7 linked regions of the Homo sapiens genome follow. The protein of the gene in region 1 interacts with the protein of each later gene in a pairwise test. Each region holds a gene or a part of one and is shown in the gene's direction. Other genes may lie near its edges. The genes, in order: MAP3K20, ZNF746, RNF19A, VPS33B, CCDC69, ZNF775 and MIDN.

Region 1 (3,879 bases):
CACTAAACCAGCCACGGCTTTACTCAAGGAAAGCACTTCTGGGTCTTCTCATATTGCTATGGATTTCTCTTAATTGTTGGGAAGTTTTCCAACTGATGCTTCAAACTTTAGCAAGAATTAATGACCTAATGATAGGATTGAGTGATAGCAAATGTTATATCGGAAAAGAAGATTGTGGGAGGCCATGACTAGCTGTTTACAAATATACAAAAGGATGTCTTATGAAAAGCAAAACTTCAAACATTAGCATGTTGTGAGTGATCACATGAGAACCAACAAGGCTTTCATGATAATCTGATATTATGCCCCTATTTGCTAATTGTGTATGGCACAACCGGCCTCAAAGAAACATACTATAGTAGAGCAGACTGTGTTATGGTACTACACCATCCTAACTTTTGTTTTTCAGCCACCATTTGTAATGGAGAAGTGGATTGTAGGAATAGCAAAAAGTCAGACTGTGGAGTGCACTGTCACATATGAGGTAAGCTCTGGGGGCAAGAGGCTGGTGGCCTCACCATCAGTTAATGAATATAAATTTATCTGTTATCTCAGAGCATATAATTTATTGGGAGATATACCCAGAGCATATAATTTATTGGGAGTAAACCAACCAACATGAACATAGGAAGATCAATATAATTTCTCTCACAACGTGTTGGGAAGAAAAGAGAACAGGATAAACTTACCCAGATAGCGACTGAGGTAGTACTTCAGTCATTCATTAGTTATGGATTGAACACCTTCTGTATACCATGTAAGATGTTTGGTATTGGGGATACTAATAGTTAATACTAATTTTTTTTAAATCAACAAGATCTTCATGGCTGGTAGGACATACACCTTACAAGGTACGTAGACCCGGTGGGAGTGGGTGGAAGGCAACAGTTATAGTACAGTCTTGGCACACCTGGAAATATTAGTGTGCACCCACCATCAAAGGGACATGCATTTCATTCATTCATCAATTCATTCATTCAAGAAACATTTATTAAGGATCTACCATGAACCAGGCACTATTAGAGGTGCTTACACCAGTTTGATCACACTAACTTCATGTAAATCAATACTGAAAAATATCGTCCAGGCGCAGTGGCTCACACCTGTAATCTCAGTACTTTGGGAGGCTGAGGTGGGCAGATCACTTGAGCCCAAGAGTTTGAGACCAGCCTGGGCAGCATTATGAAACCCTATCTCTACAAAAAATACAAAAAGTAGCCAGGTGTGGTGGCACATGACTATGGTCCCAGCTACTCGGGAGGTTGAAGTCGGGGGATTGCTTGAGCCCAGGAGGTTGAGGCTGCAGTGAGCCGAGATCACACCACTGCACTCCAGCCTGGGTGAGACAGTGAGACCCCTGTCTCCAGAAAAAAAAAAAAATACTGAAAGATATTATTATCCTCATTTTGCAGATAGGAAGAATAGGCTCAGAGAGATGAAAGGAAGTCTTGAGGTGTGAGGTCCTCACTGACAGAATTGTTGAAGTCAATTCCATGTTTTCTGACTATAAAAAACACTTTCTGCGCTTCCCTGGCTACCCTGTTAGCTCCCAGTGGCTGCAGTAAGATGAAGTCCACCTCAAAGAGGACTCTGTGAGTGTGGCATTTTGATGGTTTCCTGGGCTGCCAGGATTTGGCTTTTCAATATTAGAAATACAAACCCTGGGCCAGGCACGGTGGCTCAAGCCTGTAACCCCAGCACTTTGGGAGGCCAAGGCGGGTGGATCACCTGAGGTCAGGAGTTCGAGACTAGCCTGGCCAACATGGTAAAACGTCATCTCTACTAATAATACAAAAATTAGCTGGGCATGGTGGTGCATGCCTGTAATCCCAGCTACTCAGGAGGCTGAGGCAGGAGAATCGCTTGAACCCTGGATGCAGAAGTTGTGGTGAGCTGAGATTGCGCCATTGCACTCCAGCCCAGGAGACAAGAGCAAAACTGTCTCAAAAAAGAAAAAAAAAAAGAAAAGCAAAGCAATACAAACTCTGGCCAGTCCACTTATCCAGGCTGGAAGCCAAAAAGTTTTACAGCAGTTATTTATCCTCACCTGCTGGGGTGCACAGGTTGTCAGGGATGAGGCATCTGAGAAGTTATATTACTTGTCAAAGCATTGCTTGCAAGGTGCAAAACCCAAACAAAAGAGGCTGGTTGGTCTTGAGGAACTTGGAAACTAGACTACTCTACAGCCTGTTAACTGGTCCTCACTACCCAGGAAAAGCCCTCTTGTTAGTAATCGGACAATTAGAACAACCAGATTCTACCTCTGCCTGCCTTAGACAGTTTTGGAGACAGCACACCCAGTTCTCTTTTTCTTCTTCTCTCTCCCTCCTCCTCCTTTTTCAGACCCCATGATGATATGCCACTTTTGTCTGGGTTTTTCACTTCAGAGTTTTTTAAAACAGATTTCCCTAACCATATTGAATCCTGGAGACTCTTTAATTGACACTGATTGGTGACAGCTAGTGAGGAGGGAGATTTCAGAACAAGAAAGTAATGTGTCTTGACCTAGTGTCCTCTCCTTTTCCTGGTCCCCATTTCTTACTTCTTGATCCTGTCTCACTTTTGCATCTGAGACCCTTTCCCCTCCGTGCAGGTAATTCACCCCACCACCTTCACTCAGTTTCCTTGATGATCCAAATTCAGTCTTAGGCAAACATGGTGGTCAGATTTTCATTTATTCAACAAAATAGCTGTCATCAAGTACTATAAATAGAAGATGTAATTTTTTATTTCTTATTAAACAAAGAGGTAAGTTGAGATTTGTCAAATATAATAAATTCTGGGAAAAGACAACCATATTTTTTAGCTACTATAGTTTACTAAGAAATTTATGTTATAATCCATTAAGGAATAAGTGCTATAACCCACTAAGAAATAAAGTGGTTAAAATTTTTCTTTTCATTGAATTAGCATATTTGGGCCAACTGTTCAGAATATTTTCCTAGTGCATTATGATAGTGTTCTAAGAGGTGAAACTGAAGTGATATAATAACCTGGATGACTTTCTTTCCCATTTTATATATGTGTGTCTATTTGGTCATATGTTTCTATTTGTCTTTTTTTTGTCTTTTTCGTTTGTTTGTTTTACCAGAGTGATGTTAGAACTCCAAAAAGCACTAAACATGTCCATTCGATTCAGTGGAGTAGAACAAAACCTCAGGATGAAGTGAAAGCAGTCCAACTTGCCATTCAGACATTATTCACCAATTCAGATGGCAACCCTGGAAGCAGGTCCGACTCAAGTAAGTTAGTGTTCCCGTATTAGATGTGTGCTAGATTCCAGAAACTTAATTATGACATTTCCAGATGATCTAAAGACTCAGAGGATACCACCTCAATCAGTTAAGATCTATCTTTGAGCTTCGAGTAGCAGAAAACCCAGTTGCAACTGGCTTACTCCAATAATTCCCCAAGTGTGGCCCCAGGACCAGGAGCATCGGGATCACCTGTGAACTTGCTAGAAATCCAGATGCTCAGGCCCAAACCCAGACTTACTGAATCAGAACTCTGGGGATAGGAGCTGCAGTCTGCATTTTAAGGAGCCTTCCCAGTGATTAAGAACAACTCTAAAGTCCTTAAGCCACTGATTTAAACTGTAATAAAATTTATTATCTTCCATAACAAGAAGCCCAGAGGTAGGGCAGGCTCCAGGTGCAGTAAGATAAGCTGGCTCAACCATATTCAGAGAGTGGAATGAACCTTCCCTTCTTTCTGCCCTGCCATGCTCAATAGGCTGCCTTTGCCCTCGGCTCCTCTCCTGTTTACAGTCATCACACAAAGATATCACAACGCCCAGAGGAAATAACGGGTTAGGTCCCTACCTGTTCTTATATATAGGAGTAAGGAAAACTTTTCTAGAAACCCCCAACAGACTACCCG
Region 2 (3,879 bases), on another chromosome or scaffold:
TTTGCTGGGTCATCATCAGTAGACAGTTCCTGTGTAATCATGAGGGGAGGTGCAGGCTGCGCTCTAGTAAATCTGCAGTTTACCATTTCTCCACTAAAATGCCCAGCAATGCTAAGTCACTGTTTACGTAACAAAATTGCACTGGGTACCTGCCATGTGTCAAGGACAGTGGTATGAAAAGATGCAATACCATGTTCAGGGAGCCCACAGTGTAGGTGTGGGTAGGAAATTATTGTGTAGGGTGATAAGCACCGTGATAAGGGTCTGCATTGTGCTGCAGAGGCCTGGAGTAAAGGCACCCACCCAGACATAGACCTAACATACCCAAGCAGGTGATGGCCAACCTGAGATCTGGCATGTGGTATAGGATAGCCCCACTTGTCCACACATATGGACTCCCAGCCCAACTCCCCCGTGCCTAGGGAGAGAGGGGCTCAATGAAGACAGTGGATGGAATGAGTGATGCCAGTTTCTCTTTTGTTTCTGAAAGATTTCTCCGTGGACGATGGCAGCCACGATTCAGGCCATGGAGAGGAAGATTGAATCGCAGGCTGCTCGCCTGCTTTCCCTAGAAGGTCGAACCGGGATGGCCGAGAAGAAGCTGGCTGATTGCGAGAAGACAGCCGTGGAGTTCGGGAACCAGCTGGAGGGCAAGTGGGCCGTGCTGGGGACCCTGCTGCAGGAGTACGGGCTGCTGCAGAGGCGGCTGGAGAACGTGGAGAACCTGCTGCGCAACAGGAACTTCTGGATCCTGCGGCTGCCCCCGGGCAGCAAGGGGGAGTCCCCTAAGGTAGCCCTGGGACGCCTTGGGGTGTGGGAGCCCAAGCGGCCAAACCCGTGAGCGTGTGGGTGAGCGAGTGTGACACTTGTGGTTCCAGGTGCCCGTGACCTTTGATGATGTGGCCGTGTATTTCTCCGAGCAGGAGTGGGGCAAGCTGGAGGACTGGCAGAAGGAGCTCTACAAGCACGTGATGAGGGGCAACTACGAGACGCTGGTCTCCCTGGGTAAGGCCTGACACTCATTTCTCTGTTAAATGGGATTTTGCAAGTCCTCAGAATTCTCCCTCCACATAGTTGTTTTCATGTCAGTGTTATATAAATCACCAGAAACATTGTTGACCTTGCAAGTTGTTACCTTTTGTGAAGGATGAGCCCTGGGTGATGGAGTTAAAAGCTCCCTTCTCCCTGTGTTGAGTTTCCCAGAATGCCAGTCTGGGAACGGCGGTGGCTTCTCTCCTACGCAGGCCCGGGATGTGGACCTTTCTGTTCTTGCTGACTTGGAGCGGGGAAGGCCCCATCTGCTCTCAGATCCAGTATGTAATTGACTCACATTTGAGAAAGACTCTTTCCTTCAGCCTTCTCCTACAAACATGCGTGGCCCTTACGGCAACATGCCTCGAGGTCAGTGGAGAACATGGGCAGACGGTGCTGCTTGCAGCAGACATTTTCTTCATGCCTCAAAACTTTGCTTCCCTCAGCCCCTGGGGCTACTGCTCTTCTCCTTGTTTAATCCTGCCCAGGAAGGGCCTGGACTCTGTTTCTTCCTGGGCTGGTTTTCTCTTCCTAATGGTTTCTGTGTGACCCCGGAGCCGAGGGCAGTGAGACCTGTTAGAGAGGGCAGGAGCAGGTGCAGACGTGAGGTTGTTTCGTCAGCACAAGTGCACTGCTGTTTAACGTGCACGCTCTGTGGCAGTTTCTTCACCCCGGCACTGTGGACATTTGGGACCAGGTGATTCTGTGTGTCGGCGGCATCCTCTGCATTGTAGGATGTTGAGCAGCAGCCCTGGCCTCTCAGGGCATCTCCAGATGCCAGTCACCTCTCCCCCAGCCCTGGGCATGACAACCAGAATTGTCTCCAGACTTTGCCAGATGCCCCCAGGGAGCAAAATTGCCTGTGGTTGAGAGCTACTGCTTTGTGACAATCAAGAGATTTCATTTCTAGACCATTGTTGGTTTTCCGGGATGACTGTCCCCAGCTTTGACTGGAACGTGGCAAAAACTAACCTTCTGTCTTTCCTCAGACTACGCCATCTCCAAGCCCGAGGTCCTCTCCCAGATTGAACAAGGGAAGGAGCCCTGCAACTGGCGCCGCCCTGGCCCCAAGATTCCAGATGTTCCTGTGGACCCCAGTCCAGGTAAGGGCTGGGAGAAGGCCAGGGAGGCATCAGGTATTGTGCAGGAAACAGAGACGGAAAGGCCAGAAAGGGTGTGATCTTTCCAGAGAGAGTCGAGGAGAAACATGAAACTTACAGGTTTTATGTCTTGAGTTTTTTATAGTTGAGTTTTAATCTCTAACTTAGTCAGCTAATGCTCCAGAAATGAACACTTTCTGTCAGGGAAACAGGTGGCAAACCTAATCTTTTAGGAAGAGACAAAGGCAGGGCACAGGTTGAGGGGAGGGAGAGGAGAACGCTGAGAGGGAAGGCAGGAGCATAGTTGACCCTTAACGCAGGGGCCAGGGGCACCAGCCCCCAGTCCCACGCAGCCAAAAATCTATGTATAACTTTTGACTCTCTAAAAAGTTAACTGCTAGTAGTCTCCTATTAACCAGAAGCCTTATTGATACTATGAACAGTCAATAACACATATTTTGTATGTTCTGTGTGTTACATAGTGATACTTACAATAAGCTAGGGAAAAGAAAATGTTACTAGGAAAATCATAAGGAAGAGAAAATATATTTATTACTCATTAAGTGGAAGTGGAGCATCATAAAGGTCATCCTCCTCATTGTCTTCTTCAGATTGAGTAGGCTGAGGAGAAAGAGGAGTGGTTGGTCTAGCTGTCTCAGGGGTGACAGAAGCAGAAGAAAATCCATTTATAAGTGGGCCTGCATAGTTCAAACCCATGTTGTTCAAGGTCAGCTGTATATTGACAACAAAATTAATCCAAAGCTTTGCAAAGAGTCAGCCTTGCCTCCAAGAACCAACCTTAATTTAAACCAGTAGCAGTTGTAGAGCTACTTTGGTCTACATTGGTCAGCCTTATGGTTTGGTATTATTAGAAGCACACATTTATTTAAGGTGAATCTTGTTACCAGATATCAGCGTCTCAGATTTCCCTGGAGCCAGTCAGCACCTTTGAAAGTTAAGGGAAGGACAGGTGGACACAGGAGAAAAACCAAATTCCTAAAGTGAAGACCTGCTGGGTCATTTGACTAGGGAGACCACATCTCTGCAAGGCTCGACCCCTGATTCCTCCAGAAGACCCGCCCTTGACCGTCCCACCTGCCTTGGTTTTCCCTTTCGTCTGACACTGAGAAAGGTGGTGGTCCGCAGAGGCCCTCCTGTGCGCCACTTGTGTGAAATTAAATGCATCCCCCATGTTCGTCATCTCATCTCAGTCAGATTTGCACTTTCCTAAGGGCAGAAGCATGTTCCGGGCTGGCCGCTTTGCCAGTCGTCATCGGGACATTGACAGTTTAGCTCTACAGATGCATTTTTAAGAATCTTCTAGGCGTCAAGGACAGTGCTGAACACTAGAGGACAGAAAGATGGCTGAGAACAGATACTATTGGGCTGGAAAAGAGGGTTACAACCCGTGCGCGTCCCCAGCTTCCTAGCCTGGGTGGGAGGTTCTGGGTGGGTGGGTTTCGTTGTATTTACACCATGTGTGGAGGCTTCCCTCACTTCCACAGCATCATTCAATGAGAGTAAAGAGGGGCTGGAAATACGCTGGTTGCTGGTAAGACCCTGTAACACTCTCTAGCTGCACCGTATGATGTTCAGCAGCATCCGTGGCCTCTACCCACCAGTAGACAAGATGAGTAGACACAAACTCCACTGTCCATCCTGAGCCTGTTGGCAGGGATCTGTGTGGCGTTTATCCCTGTCCCCTTTGTCTGAGAAGCCAGGACTCCCAGCTCATCCCTTGCCACAT
Region 3 (3,879 bases), on another chromosome or scaffold:
TGTGTGGCCTGTTAGGAACTGGGCCACGCAGCAGGAGGCGAGCAGCCGTGAGCATTATTGCCTGAGCTCCACCTCCTGTCAGATCAGTGGCAACAATGATTTCTCATAGGAGTATTGCGAACTGCACTCGAGGGATCTAGATGGCACACTCCATATGAGAATATAATGCCTGATGAAACCATCCTTGCTCCCACCCCCCACCTCCATCTGTGGAAAAATTGTCTTCTATGAAATTGGTCCTGGTACCAAAAAGTTTGGGCACCGCTGCACAAGAAAGATTGAAAAGTACCAGAAAGTAAATATGTAACAATTAGGTTTCATCCTCCAAAAGAAGACTTGGTAAGCTTATAGAGCAATGGAATAATTTATAAATAAATAAATAAATGTCTCAAAAATAAGAAATTAAAAAATTAAATCAGTATGTATGTAGGGGGTGGGGCATGGAGGAAAGATCATTATTCAGTAACTGGTGTTGAGGTAACTGGCTAGCCATTTAGAAAACAAATTTTGATCTCTACTTATTCATAAACTATCAAATTACCAGTAGAAAACATGTGAAGGGATTTTAAAAATATAATCTTAGAGTGGGCAAGGCTTTCTAAGGCTGGTGTAGAAGTCAAAAGTCAGAAAGATATGTGAATTTGAGCACGTTAAAAACTTTTGAAATTTCTACATTGGAAAATTGCCATATAGTCAAATACAATTTATACGTACACACACACACACACACACACACACACACACACCCATATGATAGCAAGCCTCTTTATTAAATAGAACTATGTCTTACACATCAGTAAGGAAAAGTGCTGCAGCAGGATATAAACATGTGCCTAGTGCACAGAAAGTGAAATGTAAATGACTTGTAGTGAGACAATACTAAAAATATCTTTGCTATCAAAGCAAATGTTCCTCGTGGATTCCCAATCTCACATGCAAATACATAGCCATTAAAGTTAAATTTGTTTTTTTTATTCTTTATTATCTTCTCAACATAAGCATGTGCTGAAGTTTAATAGCTTGTTATTCTTTTGTAATACAGAATACAGCATTTAACATAGTATTTTTTATTTGTCTTCTTTATTGACAGTTTCACTTGAGTATAGAATAGCTTTAAGCTTCTGTAGTGACCAAGTTAGTGATCAGTAGAAACTCTGCTGGGAATTATCTGTACCTATTCCATCTTTACTTGAAAAAAAAAAAAAAAAAAAAAAGACTTAGTCCTCTTTCTGTTCAACAGTGCTAGTAAATATTGTCACATGCTGTTTTTATTGCATGCTTATTTTAGAAGTACCATACATCTGGATGTCAGACATCTAAAAAACAAATTAAAATTAGAAGACATAGGTACACTGCTCTTACATTTAGTATTTTGACCATCAGCACAAAATTACTGGATTTTCTCCATATTTTAAGCTGTTTGAGAAGTGACAGAAGAAACCTAATTTTAGCTGAATAACAGAAGCAAAAACTGTTATTTGACCATGTAGTAGGTTTTCCTCTTGGGAAGTAAGTGTTTTCTGTGTATGCAAACTTTTTGCCCTGCCTTCTTCATTTCCAGAATACCTTTCTAATGATGTGTAAATCATTTAGGCAGATAGGTGGCTATTAGATGCTGCTGAAGTGTTTATGGTTAGATGTTTATTGGTGGGATATTATAAATGTATAATTCTTGAAGTTGTAGTGTCAGGATACTTAACATGTTTTACGAATCCTGAAGCACTTCTGAAGGTAAAAGGTTCTTGTCTTTCCACAGTTAAAAAACTGGATGTAGTAAGGCCGTATGGCTTAAGGATCACAGAGTAATAGCAACTGAAAAGCATCATTCATTCATTTAATACTAAGCACTTGCTATAAGGTACACATTTTGTAAAGCACTAGGTTATCTTACATTCCATTTCAGCTAACATTTAGTACGGTGCCGGGTTTGTTAGGCAGGTTTAACACATGTCAATTTCATATTATTCTTAGAACATCTATTTGAGGTGAGTGGTATCATCCATATTTTGTGGTCCTGATCACTGATTCAGGAATATATCTTACCTAGGATATGATAACAAAAAATAGCTGAGCCAGGTCTTTTGACTCCCAAGTTCTCTTCTTTATACATACAATACTGGATGTTTTTTGTTTGCATGTCCAGATCTACTCTCATTCAGCCTTCTCTACCCTGCTCTGTGCCCCAGGAGGTTGACCTCTAAGGACTGCCTTAGAGGCAGTTGGCTTCTGGTTGGATTTACCCAGTGTGAGGCACTGGCAGGATATCGGAGAGCCAAAGAAATGAAACATCTGTGTTTAGGTACACAGATATCATTGTGTTGCAAATGCCTCCAGTATTCACTACAGTAACATACTGTACAGGTTTGTAGCCTAGGAGCAATAATCTATACAGTATACCCTAGGTGTGTAATAGACTATAACATCTAGGTTTGTGTAAGTGTGCTCTGTGATCACACGACAAAATCACCTAATGACACATTTCTCAGAATGTATCCTGATCATTAAGTGATGCATAACTGTATTTGTATAGATTGAGCTCTCTGACTGTTCCTTATCTATCCTGTGTTTGTGAAGGGAAATATAAACCGAGGGACATGAGGTGAAGTTTGTTTGAGTGAAATGTTTTTCCAGAGAACACATGTTAATTAGGAGGTCAGCCATAGGAGGAAAAAAACACATAGAAAAAGGCACATTAATCATGAGTTTCTGGGTCGTGTATGTATCACAAAGTGAACATACCTTTGTAACCACTATGCATACTGCACATATTAAGAAAGTTTGGCTGGGCACTGTGGCTGACGTCTATAATCCCAGCACTTTGGGAGGCCAAGGCGGGCGGATCACTTGAGGTCAGGAGTTCGAGGCCAGCCTGACCAACATGGTGAAACCTTGTCTCTACTAAAAATACAAAAATTAGCCAGCATGGTGGCGCATGCCTGTAATCCCAGCTGAGGCAGGAGAATTGCTTGAACCCAAAAGATGGAGGCTGCAGTGAGCCGAGATTGCTTCACTGCACTCCAGCCTGGGCAACAGACACAGACTGTGTCTCAAAAAAACAAAAAAAGTTCCCTTTGTGCCTCACCACAAAATGTAGCCACAATCCTGACTCCTAACATTGTACATTAATTCTCTCTGTTTGGAACTTTTTATAAATAGAATTATACCACATACTCTTTTGTATGAGAGTCCTGTCTTGTGTGTAGCAGTATTTTATTCCTTTTCATTGCTTCATTGCTTTAGAGTGTGAATATACCACAAATTATGTATTCATTCTACAGTTGATAAAATTATGGGTTGTTTCCAATATTTTGAATATTATTACTAATGCTATTGTGAGCATTGTTAAGTATGTCTTTTAATGTATGTGTACATTCATTTTTCTTATGCATTCCTTTCTAGGAGTGAAATTGTTGGGTAATAGGGCATCTCTGTGTTCCAATTTGATATTGTTAAACAGTTTTCCAAAGTAATTGTGCCATTTTACACTCCCACGAGTAGTGTAAGAGAGTTCCTATTCTTCCACATCCTTGCTAACACTTGGAAATGTCAGTCTTTTAATTTTAGCCATCCTATTAGGTGTGTTGTCTCTGAATGTGGCATTAATGTGTTTTTTCCTGATGACTGATGATGTTGAGCACTTTTCATATCCTTTTGTGAAATGCCTGTTAAGTCCCCTGCCCGTTTTTCTATTGGATTGTCTATGTTTTCTTATTGATTTGTAAGCATTCTTTACATAGTCTGGGCACTGTGCCTTTATTAGTTATATGTGGCAAAAGTCTCCTCCCATACCCTTAATACTGTCTGTTGATTTTATTCTAGTCCAGTTTATCAGTCTTTTATTTTATGGTTGGTATTCTTGTATGTTCTGTTTAAGAATTT
Region 4 (3,879 bases), on another chromosome or scaffold:
TGGAGGTCCATCATAGTCTGTCCATTTCTTGATTCCATTGAGCTCCCCTCTCACCTCCACATCAGCTACGTGCATCCTCAATCCCAGTGATTGGGAGGAATGACGTTCCAGGCCTTTACCTTGCCAACCATAGGCCTCTAAAGCTACAGCAAGTAGTGCATGCATACTTACAGAAGGTAGAAGCTAGACTAGGAAGAACAGGGATTTATTCCTTTTCAATCTTTCTAAGAAAATTCTAGAGAAAATAGAGGCAGTAACTAAGGACTGAAGCCTCTGAAACCAGGCTGTCTGGATAAAATCCACCCTTGAGGCCTTATTACCTGTGTGGTCTTGGGTTAGGTACTGAGCTGCTCCGTGTCTCGGTTTTCTCATCTGGAAGATAGAGTTGATAATAGTACTTATCTTTTAATTTAAGTGAGATGACTTTGAGTCTCTGTTGAAATAAGAAATCAAGTGGGACCCTAGGCTTATATTGTTTTCTCCTTCTGTAAAAGGAATAAGAGGAAAGAGCCAGTGACCTTCCTTTGAATGTCACCTGAACATTGATAGCACAATCTTACAAATATTTATCTTAGGATAATATGCTTAGGAATACAAACGTGAAGTATTATTACCAGGGCAAGAAATTATTGAGTAGGACAACCACTCAGAATTATAGGTACTTTTGAATGTTACTAAAGGAGTCATGGCAATAATTTCTAGTTCTTGGACTCTTACAAACCTTTTTTTTTTTTTTCTTTTCAAATTATGCTTCCAAGGACAGCTTTGGTGTTTTGTCTTGTCTTGTTTTGTTTTGTTTTGTTTTGTTTTGTTTTTGGAGACAGTGCATTGCTCTGTCACCCAGACTGGAGTGCAGTGCCGCAATCTCGACTCACTGCAACCTCCGCCTCCCAGGTTCAAGCAATTCTCCTGCCTCAGCTTCCCGAGTAGCTGGGACTACAGATGTGCACCACCGTGCGTGGCTAATTTTTTATATTTTTAAAAGAGGTGGGGTTTTGCCATATTGCCCAAGCTGGTCTCAAATTCCTGAGCTCAGGCAATCTGCCCACCTCTGCCTCCCAGAGTGCTAGGATTACAGGCATGAGCCACTGCGCCTGGCCAAGGACAGATTTGTATTAACAGGGAATAATCCTACAAGTTAAAATAATCCTACAAGCCTCTCTATTACACAGAAAAACAAAATAGTTATTTTTATGAGTGTTCTCCACTTAACACCTTATCTAATCAAATTCTTTGACCTAATTTTATATTAGGAGGCATCTCTCTCTCTTCTTTGAGACTCCTTTGTTAATTATGAAGATTGGCAGTTTTCAGACCTGGCTCTGGAATTCCATTACTTAGCATTAAAAGTTAAAAGCAGGCCTGAAGATTTCAGTTTTCCTGGCAGAAATGAGTGAGGGAGGAATAGGATTCTTCTGTGTAACAGTAAAATAAGGAGCACGTAGCATTGATCTACATCTCACAGAGCTAGTATGAAGATGAAGACAAGTGATTCCTGTAAAACACTAAGAACAATGCCTAAACCATTTTAAGGGCTTACAACATTAGCTGTTAATAATGTCAACTCATTATCAGATGTGAGTGCCCTCAGCATTCTTTCTCATTACTTTAAAATATTCACCCTTTCCCCACTTACCTCAAAGGAGGAAGAGATCGTGGCCTTTTCCCTCCTAAGATGAGCTGTTCCATGCCAGTTCTTGGCCCCATTTCTGCTTTCCTTCTCCATTATCTTGCTTTACCAGGTAGACTTTCTCTTCTGCCTTCACCCATGTCTATGCCTTCTAAACAATGTCTCCCATTTCATCTCTTTTCCCTTTCAGAGCTCCCCCTTCTTTCAGGGCCAGGCTTCTGTGAAGAATGTTCTATTGTCACTGCTTCTGCTTCCTCATCTCCACCTTCATCGTTTCATCTAGTCTCCCTCAGGTCTCCGTTGTCAAATCCACTGGTGTCTATTTAATGTTAATCCTACTTAACTTCCCTGGCATTTGACACTGTTGCCCACCCTTCCTTGCAACTCTCACCTTTCCTGCCTTGACTGTTGCTGTTTTCTCCTGCCCCTGCTTCTCTGAGTATTCTTTCTCAGTCTTCCCTGCCAGGTCCTGTACTCTGGCCCCCTTTCATCTTGTGTTCCCTAGAGTCCTGTCCTTAGCTCTCCTCTGCGTGTTCTTTTCTCTTGGACAGACCATCTACTTTATTTATTTATTTGAGACAGGGCCTCACTCTGTTGCCCAGGCTGGAGTGCAGTGGCACAATCTCAGCTCAGTGCAGCCTTGACCTCCTGGGCTCAAGTGATCCTCCCACCTCAGCCTCCTGAGTAACTGGACTACAGGCACACACCACCATGCCCAGCTAATTTTTGCATTGTTTTGTAGAGATGGGGTGTCACTATGTTGCCCAGACTGGTCTAGAACTTCTGGGCTCAAGCGATTCACCTGCCTCGGCCTTCCAAAGTTCTGGGATTATAGGAGTGAGCCAGTGCACCCAGCCACATCATCCACTTTAAATACAGCATATATGCTACTTAATCCCAAGTCCTTGTCTGTGTCTCCCAAGGTCCCGTGGGCATGTCCTAAACAGAACTCACTCTCCCTTGTACAGATCTTTTCCTCCCATCTGCTCCTCCACAATTTCCAGAGCACTTCATGCCATTGCTCTCATCTCTGTCTGTACAACTTACCTTTTGAAGACAGCTGAACTCCTTCTCCTTTGTAAACCTCTTCCATTCTCTCAGGGAGATAAGAAGCAATTTACTCAAACATAAATTAAATGGATGAGAAAGAACTGAAGTGCTGGGCTGAATGATTCTAATGGTTCTTTCTAGATCTTAAGAGTCTGGGTTCTCTTGTCTTTCACTGGGTTCGGCAATTATTGTCCTCATCAGTGACCACAGAGGAACTCCAGAGAAATGGAGAGAACAGAGAAGAAGGTAGTTACTAATCAATTTCCTTTTCTCTTTCAGTTCTATGCGTGTGAGATGGTGCTTGAGGAAGAGGGAATCTATGGAGGTGAGAGGAGATGAATGTGAGTGGAAAGGGAAAGAGAACATACAGAAGAAAAAACTGTTGTTGTTCTCCAACCCCCCCACCCCACCCCCACCACCAGCTCCTTCTTTTCCTGGTCTTATTCCTGTTAGTGTAGCAGGAGGAGAGGTTCCTGAGAATGGGAATGGGAATAGGACCACGAATTAGAACACTACTGGGGGCTGGGCGCAGTGGCTCATGCCTGTAATCCCAGCACTTTGGGAGGCCGAGGGGGTGGATCACCTGAGGTCAGGAGTTTGAGTCCAGCCTGGGCAACATGGTGAAACCCCATCTCTACTAAAAATACAATAATTAGCTGGGCGTGATGGCGCACGCTTGTAATCCCAGCTACTCGGGAGGCTGAGGCAGAAGAATTGCTTGAACCCGGGAGGCAGAGGTTGCAGTGAGCCGAGATCACGCCATTGCACTCCAGCCTGGGCAACAAGAGTGAGACTCAGAGAAAGGAAGGAAGGAAGAAAGAAAGAGAGAGAGAAAGAAAATAAAAGAAAAGAGAGAAAGAGAGAGAGGGAGGGAGGGAAAAGAAAGGATAAGAAAAGAACACTCCTGGGGTAGTATGAAAGGAACACCAGGGCTTAGAGTTGGAAATGACCAGCCACTCTTTTCTCACCTTCCAAGGCTCCCACAGGAAAAACTGGGCCTCCCCTCTGTGTATTCCTCCGCTATTCTCCACACAACCCAAACCTGATCACAGCCCTCCCTGCTGGAAATAGCAGCGGCTCAATATAAAGCCCAGAATCCCCAACATGCCTCCTATCCCTTGCACAGTCTGGCCCCTCCTGTCCCATTAGCCTCATCGTGTGCTGCTTCCTTCTCCTGACTCGCCACCCTCCAGCCAGAG
Region 5 (3,879 bases), on another chromosome or scaffold:
ATATACTATATATACGATATATATTATATATACTATATATATTTTATTTATTAGTATATATATACTATATAGATTTTATTAGTATATATTATATATACTATATAGATTTTATTAGTATATATAATATATATACTATATATATTTTATTATATATACTATTTTTTATATATACTAAATATGCAGAAGCTGCATATTTAGTACATATATATAACTAAATATATATATTTACTAATATATAAATATATATATTTACTATATATTAAATATGTATATTTACTAAATATATATATATTTATTTTTTATTTTTATTTTTATTTTTTTGAGACGGAGTTTCACTCTTGTTGCCAGGCTGGAGTGTAGTGGCAGGATCTTGACTCACTGCAACCTCCGCCTCCCAGGTTCAAGCAATTCTCCTGCTTCAGCCTCCCGAGTAGCTGGGATTACAGGCGCCTGCCACCATGCCCACCTAAATTTTTTTGTATTTTTGGTAGAGACGGGGCTTCACCATGGCCAGGCTGGTCTCGAACTCCTGACCTTAAGTGATCTGCTCACCTCGGCCTCCCAAAGTGCTGGGATTACAGGTGTGAGCCATCGCGCCTGGCCTACATTTCCTTTTGTGCACAAGCAAGCAGGATAAGGTGGTAGTTAGGAGTATTTGCTGTGGAAACAGATTGTGTAGGTTCATATCCCTGCTCCCTTAATTTTGAACTGGGTGACTTTGAACAAGTTGCATGACTCCTCTGAGCCTCAGCTTCCTCGTCTGTAGCATGGGGGTAATAATATTACTCACGACTATAGGGTAGCTGTGAGGAGCAGGTGAGTCATCCCTCTGAGGCACTTGGAACAGTGCTGGACATGTTGCAGGCATGGTAAGCTCTCAGTCCTCCTATCCTGCTTTTACTATTTTTATTGCCATTGTTTCCTGATTTAATCATCTCAGCCTCACTCATGTGGTAGGTGCCATAATTATCCTGATCCCATGTATTAGGTAACTGAGGCACAGAGAGGATGGCCACTGCCTTAGGTCATACCTAGTATCTGATAGACTCAGTGTGGCATTGGCAGGTCCTGTTTTGGAGTTTCCCGAAGCAGGGGCTAGACTTCCTGTTTGTGTTTCCTTCCTGCTCTCAAGTAGCACCCTCTACTACCAGCTGAGGAGACGCTAAAGGTGAGGGGCCACAAACTCAGATGCTCATGGGCCCCAGCAGGTAAAGCAAATGACATGTGGCCCTTTGTATACATTTTTAATAACAGCAGGAGGTGAAGACTATAGCCAACTGCAGAGCCCTATCCTGGCCGGCCAAAGAGGAGGCAGCTGCTTCTGGCTCCAGCCCCTGGTTGACATGAAGGCATACATTGCCAGTTCTTCTTTGGATTCTTCAAGAAAAATTGGAAATCAGAATTATTAAGTAAAAGCTTCCCAGTTATTAAGTATCAACAACTAATTTTTAAATTATTATTATTATTTTAGAGACAGGATCTCGCTCTGTTGCGCAGACTGGAGTGCAGTGATGCAGTCATAGCTTACTGCAGCCTTGAACTCCTGTGCTCAAACCATCCTCCTGCTTTGGTCTCCCTAGTAGCTGGGACTGCAGGTGCATGCCATCATGCCCAGCTTTTTTTTTTTTTTTTTTTTTTTTAGAGATAGGGTCTCACTATGTTTCCTAGTCTGGTCTCCAACTCCTGGTCTCAAGTGCTCCTCCCACCTCAGCCTCCCAAAGTGCTGGGACTACAGGTGTGAGCCACCATGTCTGGCCAGCGACTAATTTTTTAAAAAATGGGGTAGAACAGGGAGACCAGAGGACAAAATGAGACCATTGGCTTATTCCTTGAAAGAGGATCTCCAAGTCCAAAGAGACTCGAGGGGCTGTCTCTGGAGACTGGTCCCACTCGAAATCATTCTTGAGGCAGAGACCAGAAGACAAAATGAGACCATTGGCTTATTCCTTGAAAGAGGATCTCCAAGTCCAAAGAGACTCGAGGGGCTGTCTCTGGAGACTGGTCCCACCCGAAATCATTCTTGAGGCAGAGACCAGGGTTCTCATCCCTTAGCCCCATTTCCCACACTCTCTCTGCCAGCTCTGACTGTACTTCCACTCTGTGAGTTTTTTTATTTTTATTTTTTTGCTTTTTCATCTCTAGCTATAACTGTCCAGCTCTGTGCATCAGAGGAGGCTGAGCGGCACCAGAAGGATATAACCAGAATTCTCCAGCAACATGAGGAGGAAAAGAAGAAATGGGCACAACAGGTAAGTCCAGGTGCCCCCACCCCCTGTCTTTCTCCTGCTCAGCTAACTTTGGTGAATCCCAGAGTGAGTGCCTACCTTAGGTTTTTGTTGCTGTTGTAAGAGTCCCTTACTCATTTTACCAGGAAGGGAGTCCTTTATCTGTTGAACACATATTTTTATCAGGGCACTGTGTGCTGGGCACATTGGTTAAAACAAGCAGAGCTGGCAGCTGCTTTCACGAAGCTGAGAGTCTATTTGGGAAGAGTAAAAGCTGTTGATGCCACTAGATTAATTGCCTTTCTGGGCCCACCTCATGGTTGGGTGGGACCACGGAACTCGTTCTGGCTGATGCGTTATAGAAAGAAGAACCAGTGTCACTTCTAGGGCAAGCATTTAGTTGCCAGTTCAAGACCCTCAAGGTCTTTCTGTCTAGCTAAGTGACGGGACTGTTGTAATGGCCGCTCTATCAGCCTGATCTCTGGGTGATTATCCCTGGATAATCCTGGATAATCCCTGGCAGCAGAGCTCCCTGCCACACAAAATGGGTAGGTAGTGAGGGCAAAATAAACATTTTGTCTTAAGCCACTGAGACTTTGTCATTGTTTGTTATGGCAGCATAATTTAGCTTATATGACTGAGATGGGACATCAGATGCTAAACACAATTACACAGAAATACTTACTGCAAATATAAGTGCTATGAAAAGTTTACAGTGCCGTGAAAGGACATAATAGAACCCTTAACCAAGGCTGTGGGATCAGAGAAGGCTTCTCTAAAGGGATGACACGGAGGCTTTAAAATTACCCAGAAATGAAAATTGAGGGACATTCTACAGAATTTCCAGCCTATATTAGTCAAATGTCAAGGCCATGAAACATGAGGAAAGACTGGGGAACAATTCTAGATTGAAGGACACTAAAGTGATGGGATGACTGAATGTAACCTGCAGCCCAGGATTTCCTTTTCCTCATTCTAACTTGGTCACTCACCCTTCACCTCTCTTTGCCTCCATTTCTTCCTTTACCAGAGGGAATGGGTAGAGCAGCAGGAAAGATTTGGTGGTGTACACAAGTTTTCTCTAAATTTTCTTTAGTTTAAATTATAAATATGAAATATGTTCAGGGTAAATATTCAAAATTCTGAAATTTAAAGTCACTGCTTTAAGATAGATCTGGGCCAGGCATGCCTATAATCCTAGCACTTTGGGAGGCCGAGGCAGGCAGATCACCTGACGTCAGGAGTTCGAGAACAGCCTGGGCAACATGGCGAGACCACCGTCTCTACAAAAATACAAAAATTAGCCCAGCCTGGTGGCACATGCCTGTAATCCCAGCTACTTGGGAAGCTGAGGCAGGAGAATCACTTGAACCTGGGAGGCAGAGGTTGCAGTGAGCTGAGATCTCACCACTGCACTCTTGCCTGGGTGGCAGAGCAAGAATCCATCTCAAAAAAAAAAAAAGTCTCCGTAGTTATAAACTAATCACTCTATTAAATCACATGGTTATTTATTACTGAAAGATTTTCTGCTAGATTTTATTCACCCAGTCGACTTGCTGGGGGAGATTACTATGTGCGGGGAGGGTGCGGCCTCAGCACTGCCAGGGGTACAGGGAGAAATCGGGTCCAGACCCTGCCCTCAGGTGTTCGCTGG
Region 6 (3,879 bases), on another chromosome or scaffold:
CCTCCTGCATGGTGGAGCGTGGAGGCTCCTGTGTGGCGCTGGGGGCCTCTGAGATTCCCAACTGGCTGGAAGGAGTGATGGCTTAGGAGGAGTGAGTGGCAGCGGGGACGCTGGCAGAGAGGCTTGTACAGATACTGCCCGATGCATCCGGCTCAGGCTTGCCGCCCTGTGGTGCTCCTCCCAAACTCAGGGAGCAGGTATTTCCGTTCACCTGCGCCTTCAAGAACCTGAGCTCAAAGCGCTGCAATGACTGGCCAGGGACTAGCAGCGGCTCAGTGGTGGGTGGGCTGGGACTTGGGGTTCTTGATTAAGACATGGGGTCCTGAGGGGAGGGACCAGGAAGGGTGGCCTTGAGAAGGACATCCCTGCCAGCCTCAGGCAGTGGGCTTCTAGGGGGAGACTAGGGCTGAGGAGCCAGCCAGGTGGCGGCTGAGGGTCACCCAAAGATGGCTGAAGGGGAGAGGGCCCGCTGCATCCCCTTGGGCCAGAGCCCACAGGCCAGGCCCTGAGGATCTTAGGCTGCACCAGGCTTGCCGGACACAGGCTCATTGTCTCTAGGGCTTTCTGTCTTGCTGTAACGTCTCTCCAGCCAGCTGCAGCTCCTGCTGACTTATCCCACCCCAGCGCAGGTCATCCAACGGTGACTTATGGCCCCGGCCTCCTGGCTCGATGAGGGTATGTTGCTTCTGTTTCTACCTCTCTGAGTTCTTTTCCTCGGAGCAAGTGACCCTGATGGGATGGCCATGGGTGTACAAGGATACTTGTGTCATGGGTGGCTTTGCAGTTCTGTGTTCCTAAGTGTGCTGTGCAGTGATTCGTGCTGCCCTGGTTCACAGTGGCACGTTTGTGTGTCTGTGGATCTGTAGGTGTGTCTGTGAGTTTTAAAAAATATCTCACATTCTCTGTATTTGCATAGACAGTTTTGCAGGTGTTCTCACGTAGTTTTGTGTCTTTGAACTTTTGTTTACTTAGCTGTATTTAGATATGATTGTATCTGGGTGTGTTTGTGTGTGGTTTAGCATTTACATCAGTTTCTTATGTCCCTATGATCATATATTTAAATTAAAAACATCTGCTATTAACTGAAATCAGAGGCAGAGAATACCATTGCCTGGTCCTGAGGGATTTCTTAATAGTGACAGAAGACTGGAGCCTGAGGAGCCACCTCTTGGGTCCTCCATTGTTTCATTCACTCATCCGTTCATTCATTCAATACACATTACACACCTTCTGCATATGAGGGACGCGCAGGTGTGGGAGCAAGCCCCCGCTCCCTGGGGCTAACCTGAGTGAGGGGTCTCACAGGGAGAGAGGACTGGGTGAGGACATAGCAGTCAGGTATGGGCTGCAGGAGGGCAGGGAGGCGCTGGGGACCCGGTGGAGTTGAGAAGGATGAGGCTATAGAAAGGGGCAGCATGGCAGGGAGGCATTGGCTGGGCATGGGCTGGGACTGGAGAGGCCAGTTTCTGTGGGGGTCTCCTATGGAAGACCAGCTGAGCTGTGCCCAGCAAGTGAGGACCTGCTGGGACCTCAGGGCTGAGAAGGGCCTGATACTGGGCCTTTGGCTGGGGTTTGGGGAGCTGCCCCCACCCCCAAAAGCCTTAGCGCCTAGTGGCGGATCCTGCTCCCGCTCCACTAGCAGCAGATGATACCTGTGGCATGGTCTGCTTCTGACTGCCCGACCTGGGGCGCTGAGGCTGTGAGAGCTGTGCTGGGCTGGTGGGAGGTTCCAGGGGCGGCGATGGGGAGGACCTTGCCTCTTTCTGGCCTGTGGCCTTTCTCCTCCCCCAGCTGCTGTCTGGCCGCCCCACCCCCAAGTCTCTGCCACAACCAAAGCTCCTTTGTTGCCTCCCCCTGCCCCGGGCCTCTCCACCTGCTGCTAGCTCAATCCCCTCTTTGTGTGGTTGGTCTTCAGTTGTCATGGCAGCTGGGCCCAGGCTGAGGCCTGCCCACTGTGAGGCTCTTAACTGAACTGCAGCCTGACCCGGTGCGCGGAGGGCCGGGCCAGGGCCAGGCGTGGGAAGGGGGCCCCTGTGTGTCCTGCTCCCCTCAGAGCCCGAGGGGCAGCAGAGAGGAAAGGTGGTCCGGTAGGGGCCCGGGGGCCCTTGTGCGATAGACAAAGCGGCCTTCCAAGACTTGGTGTGGGCACTGGTGGGAGATGGCGCATCTGGCCCTTGATGCCTGTCTTCCAGCCGGGGCGCTTTGCTGGGCAGCCTGCTCACCTGGCTCCTGGGTGTCTCCAGGTGGCTGAGGACATGTCAGGATGGTAGGTTAGGAGGGGCCCGCCATGCACAGAGCAGAGTGAAAGGCAGAATAGGAGAGAAGCTTAGGGTGGGGACGTGTGTGTCTGGCCAGCCTGGAACATGACACATGGAGGGCTTTCCTGGATTTTGTCTGTAGGACACCTGCTGTGCCATTTCCCAGACATAGCCCACCTGAGCACACAGGTAGAGGCGGGTCCCCAAAGACTTGGCCTCCCCTCATTCCTGTCCTCTGTGTTTCCCCCTTTGAATTTCTCACTTCTTCCTCTTGGGTCCTCTTCCTTCTGTCTCCATTTCTGTTCTTACGTAAGCCACAGGCTGCTTCCCCTCGAGCCCTGGTATGGCCCGAGACAGAGGCACCGAGGCTTGAGGGAGGAGCTGCTCTGGGAGGTCCCGGACAGTGGAAGGCCTGCTACTACCTGGAGTGGCTGTTAGGTCCTAATACCTCTTGGGAGGCAGGGTGGGTGAAGTAGGACTGTCTTTGATTTGCCTTGGGGGTCTCGCTCTGTGGAGACCCAGGCCCATCCTTCTGTCCTCCTGAATTTGTGGCCTGGGCTCTGCCCTCCTCGGTCTGAGTTCCCCTTACCAAGGTGGCTTCTCTGTCCACTAGCCCCTCTGCGCCTCTTCAGGTGGATGTTAAGTCCAGTTGGTGAGAGGTTTCCCAAGATGTGGCATGCAGAAGCTCACAGAGTGGCCCCAAGGGAGGAGGGTGGCGAGGGAGGGAGGAGCCCCCAGCACCCATCAGAGCCCCACCAGGGGCTCCTCCCGCCCCCTTCCCCACTGCTCGCCTTTTCTCTGCACCACAAGCAGGTTCTGTAAGAAACCATGGTAGGCATGCGTACAGGCCCCTGTTGGGGAAATAGAATTGAAAACAAAATCTCTTGCCAACCCAGAAAAGCTCTTTGCAAAAGTAGAAGAGAAAAACAGCTTTTAAAAGATTGAATGTGCATGAAACCAGAATGTGGTGCGCACCATGGACAATCCCCCGAGCAACTGCAAAGACGGGAGCTCTGAGCCTGCAATACCCCAAGCGACTGCAAAGACGGGAGCTCTGAGCCTGCAATACCCCGAGTGACTGCAAAGACGGGAGCTCTGAGCCTGCAATACCCCGAATGACTGCAAAGACGGGAGCTCTGAGCCTGCAATCCCTGAGTAACTGCAAAGACGGAAGCTCTCAGCCTGCATGTAGCCGGCAGGTGCAGCCCGTTACAGACATGTTCTCAGGATAAACAGCAACCAGCCCTCCAGCAAGAGGACTGGACATTACCATTTGTCACACGCAGGCAGGTCGTCCTAAATTCACCTCATAATTGGAGTGACCATCTGTGTTAGCTAATTGCCTTTACCCACAGGAAAAATAAAGTTCTTATATTTTTATGACAGGAGATAGTTTTGTGATTTGGAGCCAGGCACCTGCTGAAATTAGGCTCCTACCCTCCCATGGAGACTGGGAGGCAGGGGTGATGTCTTCCTTGATACTTAAATTTCAAAGAAATGGCCCCCAGGACCTTGGGAAAGACAGTCCTGGGTTGTAATGTTGGCAGAAGGCTTATTTAGCTTTTTTTTGAGACAGAGTCTCACTCTGTCACAATCTCGGCTCACTGCAACCTCTGCCTCC
Region 7 (4,337 bases), on another chromosome or scaffold:
CCAGGCTGGTCTCAATCTCTTGACCTTGTGATCCGCCCGCCTCGGCCTCCCAAAGTGCTGGGATTACAGGCGTGAGCCACCGCGCCCGACCGCATCATCTTTTTTATGTGACAAACTCCTAGTCATTCCTCAAACCGCAGCCCCTGTGACCCCCTTCCAAGGGTTATCCCAGCCTCTCCCTCTCTGGCCTAGCCCTGACCCTTCGGGGCTGGGTGTGCCTGTCAAGGTGGGGGCCACGGCTGCCGGGAGCATGGGTGGCAGCCGGAAGGAGACCTGGGGAGGAGCGCAGCCCTGGGAGGGGCGCCCATGGCCAGGGTGGGGGTGGAGGTGGTCAGGCCAGATAAAGGGAGGGGCCAGATGAGTGGACAGGAGGTGCTCCCGTAGGAATGGGGTCCCCTTCTCTAAATAGAGGGGCAGGACGGGGCCCACCTCAACCAGGACCATCCTCAAAAAGCCGACGGGGAAGGGTGAGATGCACACCACATTCGTGTCTCATTGGCTGTGGCCTCAGTTTCTTCATCTGTAAAATGGGGTAATGCCCACCCCAAAGGCTGGGAACCAGTGCATGTCCTGCATTAATGGGGGGTGATGGCCCCAAAGTGATCCTGCCGCATCCCCTCACCACACTCCCACCCACCCTGGAGAAACTGAGGCTTGGAGAGGCCAGTTACCTCCCGGGGTCACAGCATAGCCGGCTGGTGACTGGCTGGGCACAAGGCAGGCCTGGCACTGGCTAATCGCTCCATAAATGCCCTCTGAGGTCACCATTGACAGATGCAGGAGGCCAGGGCTGGCCAGGGCACCCCCACTCTACGGCAGGTGACTCCAGCCTGTTTTCCTGGACGACAGCCGCTGACTCAGGCCCCTCTTCCCGTCCCCCCCACGCGGGCGCCCCCAGGCGGAAGCACCGGGCCTGGGGCGACAGGAAGGGGGCGGGGCAGCGAGTCGCGCTGTACACCCCAAAACCCTGTCCCGCTGACGATTCGGGGTGCATCTCAGCCCGCGGCGAGGCGGGCCGAGACCCTTGGCTCGGGGCATTCAAGGGGAGTCCCCCCATGAACTGCGCCAAGCCTGGGTCCCGGGTGGCCCAGCCGTCAAGGCGCCCCAGGGCCAGGGCCGGCAGGCAGGGGCGGGGGCCAGTCTGCGTCACCGCCCGCCCGGCCCCCCGCCCCCCTGCCCGCCCTAACTCCACCCCGAGGGAAGGCGGCGCGGATAAAGGCTGAGGGCCGCGCGCTTGGCCCAGACCGGCCCGGCCAGCGCGCATTCGGCCCCGGACGAAGGTACTCGCAGCACTTGGAGCGCAGAACCGGCCGCGCCCGGTGAGTGTGGAGGGGGGGGACCTGCGGGCCGAGGAAGGGTGCCCACTCTAGATGGCTCAGGATGCCCGCACTTTTCTTTGTTCTTGGGACAGGAGGGATCGGGGAGCCTCCGGTCCTGGGAAGCCCCCCGGGGTGCGGGGTGGGAGGGGCTCCGCGCAGCCAGCGCCGCCCTGGCCGGACCTCAGCCCCCGCCCCGCCCCCCGGGGCACTCCCCCTTCACCGCGGGTGACCTTGAACTGGTTGCCGTTCCGCCCTCCGTTGCCCAGCCACACGGTCCCAGTCTCCCGACTACAGTCTTTCGTTCCCGATCGGGGTTCCTCCCCCGCGCGCAGCCCAGTCGTCTTCCTCCCCTGCCAGGGGCAGCGCGGCGCCCCCTCCCCGGGACTCCGGGCGGCGCTCCCAGGCGGGCCCGGCAGAGGGCGCGCCCGAGCTGCTGACTCACCGCATCCCCGAGCGCGCGCGGGCGCAGCCGGGGACGCCGCGTCACGTCACGGCTCGAGCGGGCGCGCCTCGGGGAAACGGGTTCTGCCCGCGGCCGGCGGGTGGGCGCGCGGGGCCCCCGGCGGCAGCCACCCGGCCACGTCACCGAGGTGCGGGCGCCCCGCCCCGGCCACAACTCCGCCCCCACGCACCACGCCCTCCCCGGGGCCGCGGCCCTAGCCTCACCGTCGCCCGCCCGCCCCGGGACCCCGGCCACGAGGCGCGGACTTCGCGCTCCCGCTTCCGCTCGCGGCTTTTCCCGGACGAAGGCGGCGGGGTGGCCCCACGACTTCCTGCCCCTCCCGGCGCCGGGAACAATGGCCCGCGCCCCCTCCCGCTCCCGGCCGCTCCCTTGGGATCGCGAGGGGTACCAGACCCGTCTCCAGACCTGGGTCCCGCGCCCCCCGGGGCGCGCCCGCCCTTTGTTGCGGGCTCCGGGCGCTTATGAATGGCTGCGGGCGCGGGCGGGGCGGGGGCGGGCGCGGAGAGGCGCCAGCCCCGCCCCCGCTGCGCTCCCCTTGGTCGCCTGGGCGCTGGGGGCGGGGCGAGGGGGCGGGCCCGGCTGCCACGTGGGGCGGTGCCGCGGCGGCTCTCATAGGCCCGGGCTCGCGGCCGACTGGGCGCTCGGCGCGCGGCGATTGGCCGGCGCCCGGCCGGCGGAGTAAGTAGTGAATGGGAGGGGGCGGCGGCCCCGCCCCCTGGAACGTTGATACATTATAACTTTTTTTTCTTGTTACTTTCACCCCCAGATCCTCCGAGCGGCGGCGACGGCTGTTGCTAAGGGAGGGGACGCGCGAGGAAGCGCGACCCGGGCGGCAGACGGCACCCAGCGCCACCAGCCGAGCGGCGCCCCCTCCCCAGGACCCTTAACCGCGCCGCGTCCCGGTCGCGCCCGCCGCCCTTTGAAGGAGAAGCAAGTGCCGTCCCCACCCCCGGAAGGCGCCCCCAGGAGCCGGAGCGACCTCGGAGCGCCACTCGGATTTTGGATTTCGGTCTCGCATTCCGCGGCCGGGACTTTCTCGAGGAGGACGCGCGCTGCTCCGCGCCCCCGAGTGCCCGGAGGACCCGGCATCCGGGGAGCCTCTCGCCCCTGTCCCGGAGGCGCGGCGAGGATTGGCGGCGCCCGCCGCCCCCAGCCCCCCAGCGCGCGCCGGGGATGGAGCCGCAGCCCGGCGGCGCCCGGAGCTGCCGGCGCGGGGCCCCCGGCGGCGCCTGCGAGCTGGGCCCGGCGGCCGAGGCGGCGCCCATGAGCCTCGCCATCCACAGCACCACGGGCACCCGCTACGACCTGGCCGTGCCGCCCGACGAGACGGTGGAGGGGCTGCGCAAGCGGTTGTCCCAGCGCCTCAAAGTGCCCAAGGAGCGCCTGGCTCTTCTCCACAAAGACACGTAGGTACCGCGCGCCCCCGGCCGGCCGCCCCCTCGGGCCCCGGCCCCCGGGCGGGAACAAAGAGCGCGCCGCGCGGGGAAGGCAGGGGGCGGCCAGACAGGGGGCGGGGGCGCGCCGCGCGCTCTCGGGCGCCCTCTGCTCGGCCTCGCCTGCCTCGGCCCCCTCCCCCGCCCGGGGTCGCCGCACAAAGGCGGCTGCGAGGGCGTCCCGGGCCGGGCTTCGGCGGCCCCCCTTGGGGGCGGGCAGGAATCCCAGGGCGTTGCGGGGGTCCCGGCTGCGGGTGTGGGGGCCGCCACCGCCCCCTCCCGCCTGCGTCCGCGCCGGCTTCCGCATCTGCTCGGCGGCCTCCTCTGCGTCTGGCTGTCTCCCCCCACTTGCGTCTCTCTCCCCCCCTTTGTTCTCGCCTCCGAGCGCTCCCCGCAGCCTCCCCTCCCCCCTGGTATTTAAATCGCCTGCAGGCCCGGAGCCCTCCCCCCGCGGGCCTCCGGGGACACGCAGTGTCCATCCCAGTGGAGGGGCCCATCGGGGGAGGGGCGGAGGGGGAGGGTCTCCTTTGTCTGCGCGGCGGCGGCCGCCTGCGCCGGGGAGGGAGGAGGAGGGGGAGCCCGGCCCGGCGCAACCCCCAGGGCCTCTCCTCGGGCCGAAACCCGTGGTTCCTACAAAGAGGAGCCAGGACTAGAATTAGGGAATTGGGGGCAGGGGCTGCCCTGGGGTCGTGGGGGAAGGTGGCATAGAGCACACTGGGGCCCAGAGGAGGAGAAAGTGCCTGGTTGGGGTGCAGAGGGGGTGCCAGAGTCCAGGGCGGGGGTTCCACTGGAGGGAAGGGGTCCGAATCGCCAGGATGGGGCTCCCAGCACCAGACGGAGACCTCTCTGCACGCGCTTAGGGCCCTGGATCTGGAAGCCGGGAAGGGGTGGGGGTGGGAACTTATCCGTCTCTCCCCACACAAGCACAGCCCTCCCCCGCGGCCTCTGCTTCCGCGTCCCTGTGTCGTCTCCGCGGAGTCTCATGCTCTTCCTTCCTCCCCCCAGCCGGCTCAGTTCGGGGAAGCTGCAGGAGTTCGGCGTGGGTGATGGCAGCAAGCTGACCTTGGTACCCACCGTGGAAGCGGGCCTCATGGTAAATGGCCATGGGGCTGCGTGCCCCCA

Evidence for each region.
Region 2: the proteins of MAP3K20 (region 1) and ZNF746 interact in a two-hybrid assay, tested with the Homo sapiens proteins (one large-scale study listed by BioGRID and IntAct).
Region 3: the proteins of MAP3K20 (region 1) and RNF19A interact in a two-hybrid assay, tested with the Homo sapiens proteins (one large-scale study listed by BioGRID and IntAct).
Region 4: the proteins of MAP3K20 (region 1) and VPS33B interact in a two-hybrid assay, tested with the Homo sapiens proteins (one large-scale study listed by BioGRID and IntAct).
Region 5: the proteins of MAP3K20 (region 1) and CCDC69 interact in a two-hybrid assay, tested with the Homo sapiens proteins (one large-scale study listed by BioGRID and IntAct).
Region 6: the proteins of MAP3K20 (region 1) and ZNF775 interact in a two-hybrid assay, tested with the Homo sapiens proteins (one large-scale study listed by BioGRID and IntAct).
Region 7: the proteins of MAP3K20 (region 1) and MIDN interact in a two-hybrid assay, tested with the Homo sapiens proteins (one large-scale study listed by BioGRID and IntAct).

The regions. Positions count from the first base shown.
Region 1 is NC_000002.12:173,260,654-173,264,532, forward strand, and holds part of MAP3K20 (mitogen-activated protein kinase kinase kinase 20), read left to right. Parts: intron 1-409; coding exon 410-484; intron 485-3,091; coding exon 3,092-3,242; intron 3,243-3,879. UniProt on the Homo sapiens protein: Stress-activated component of a protein kinase signal transduction cascade that promotes programmed cell death in response to various stress, such as ribosomal stress, osmotic shock and ionizing radiation.
Region 2 is NC_000007.14:149,491,115-149,494,993, reverse strand, and holds part of ZNF746 (zinc finger protein 746), read left to right. Parts: intron 1-490; coding exon 491-790; intron 791-878; coding exon 879-1,005; intron 1,006-2,021; coding exon 2,022-2,135; intron 2,136-3,879.
Region 3 is NC_000008.11:100,289,303-100,293,181, reverse strand, and holds part of RNF19A (E3 ubiquitin-protein ligase RNF19A), read left to right. Parts: intron 1-3,879. UniProt on the Homo sapiens protein: E3 ubiquitin-protein ligase which accepts ubiquitin from E2 ubiquitin-conjugating enzymes UBE2L3 and UBE2L6 in the form of a thioester and then directly transfers the ubiquitin to targeted substrates, such as SNCAIP or CASR.
Region 4 is NC_000015.10:91,008,927-91,012,805, reverse strand, and holds part of VPS33B (vacuolar protein sorting-associated protein 33B), read left to right. Parts: exon of another isoform or gene 1-372; intron 373-1,636; exon of another isoform or gene 1,637-2,252; intron 2,253-2,959; coding exon 2,960-3,005; exon of another isoform or gene 3,006-3,015; coding exon of another isoform or gene 3,016-3,021; intron 3,022-3,829; coding exon of another isoform or gene 3,830-3,879. UniProt on the Homo sapiens protein: May play a role in vesicle-mediated protein trafficking to lysosomal compartments and in membrane docking/fusion reactions of late endosomes/lysosomes.
Region 5 is NC_000005.10:151,199,952-151,203,830, reverse strand, and holds part of CCDC69 (coiled-coil domain-containing protein 69), read left to right. Parts: intron 1-2,142; coding exon 2,143-2,249; intron 2,250-3,879. UniProt on the Homo sapiens protein: May act as a scaffold to regulate the recruitment and assembly of spindle midzone components. Required for the localization of AURKB and PLK1 to the spindle midzone.
Region 6 is NC_000007.14:150,382,149-150,386,027, forward strand, and holds part of ZNF775 (zinc finger protein 775), read left to right. Parts: exon of another isoform or gene 1-675; intron 676-1,652; exon of another isoform or gene 1,653-1,843; intron 1,844-3,879. UniProt on the Homo sapiens protein: May be involved in transcriptional regulation.
Region 7 is NC_000019.10:1,247,342-1,251,678, forward strand, and holds the start of MIDN (midnolin), read left to right. Parts: upstream 1-1,241; 5' UTR 1,242-1,319; intron 1,320-2,546; exon of another isoform or gene 2,547-2,548; 5' UTR 2,549-2,955; coding exon 2,956-3,188; intron 3,189-4,220; coding exon 4,221-4,308; intron 4,309-4,337. UniProt on the Homo sapiens protein: Facilitates the ubiquitin-independent proteasomal degradation of stimulus-induced transcription factors such as FOSB, EGR1, NR4A1, and IRF4 to the proteasome for degradation. Promotes also the degradation of other substrates such as CBX4.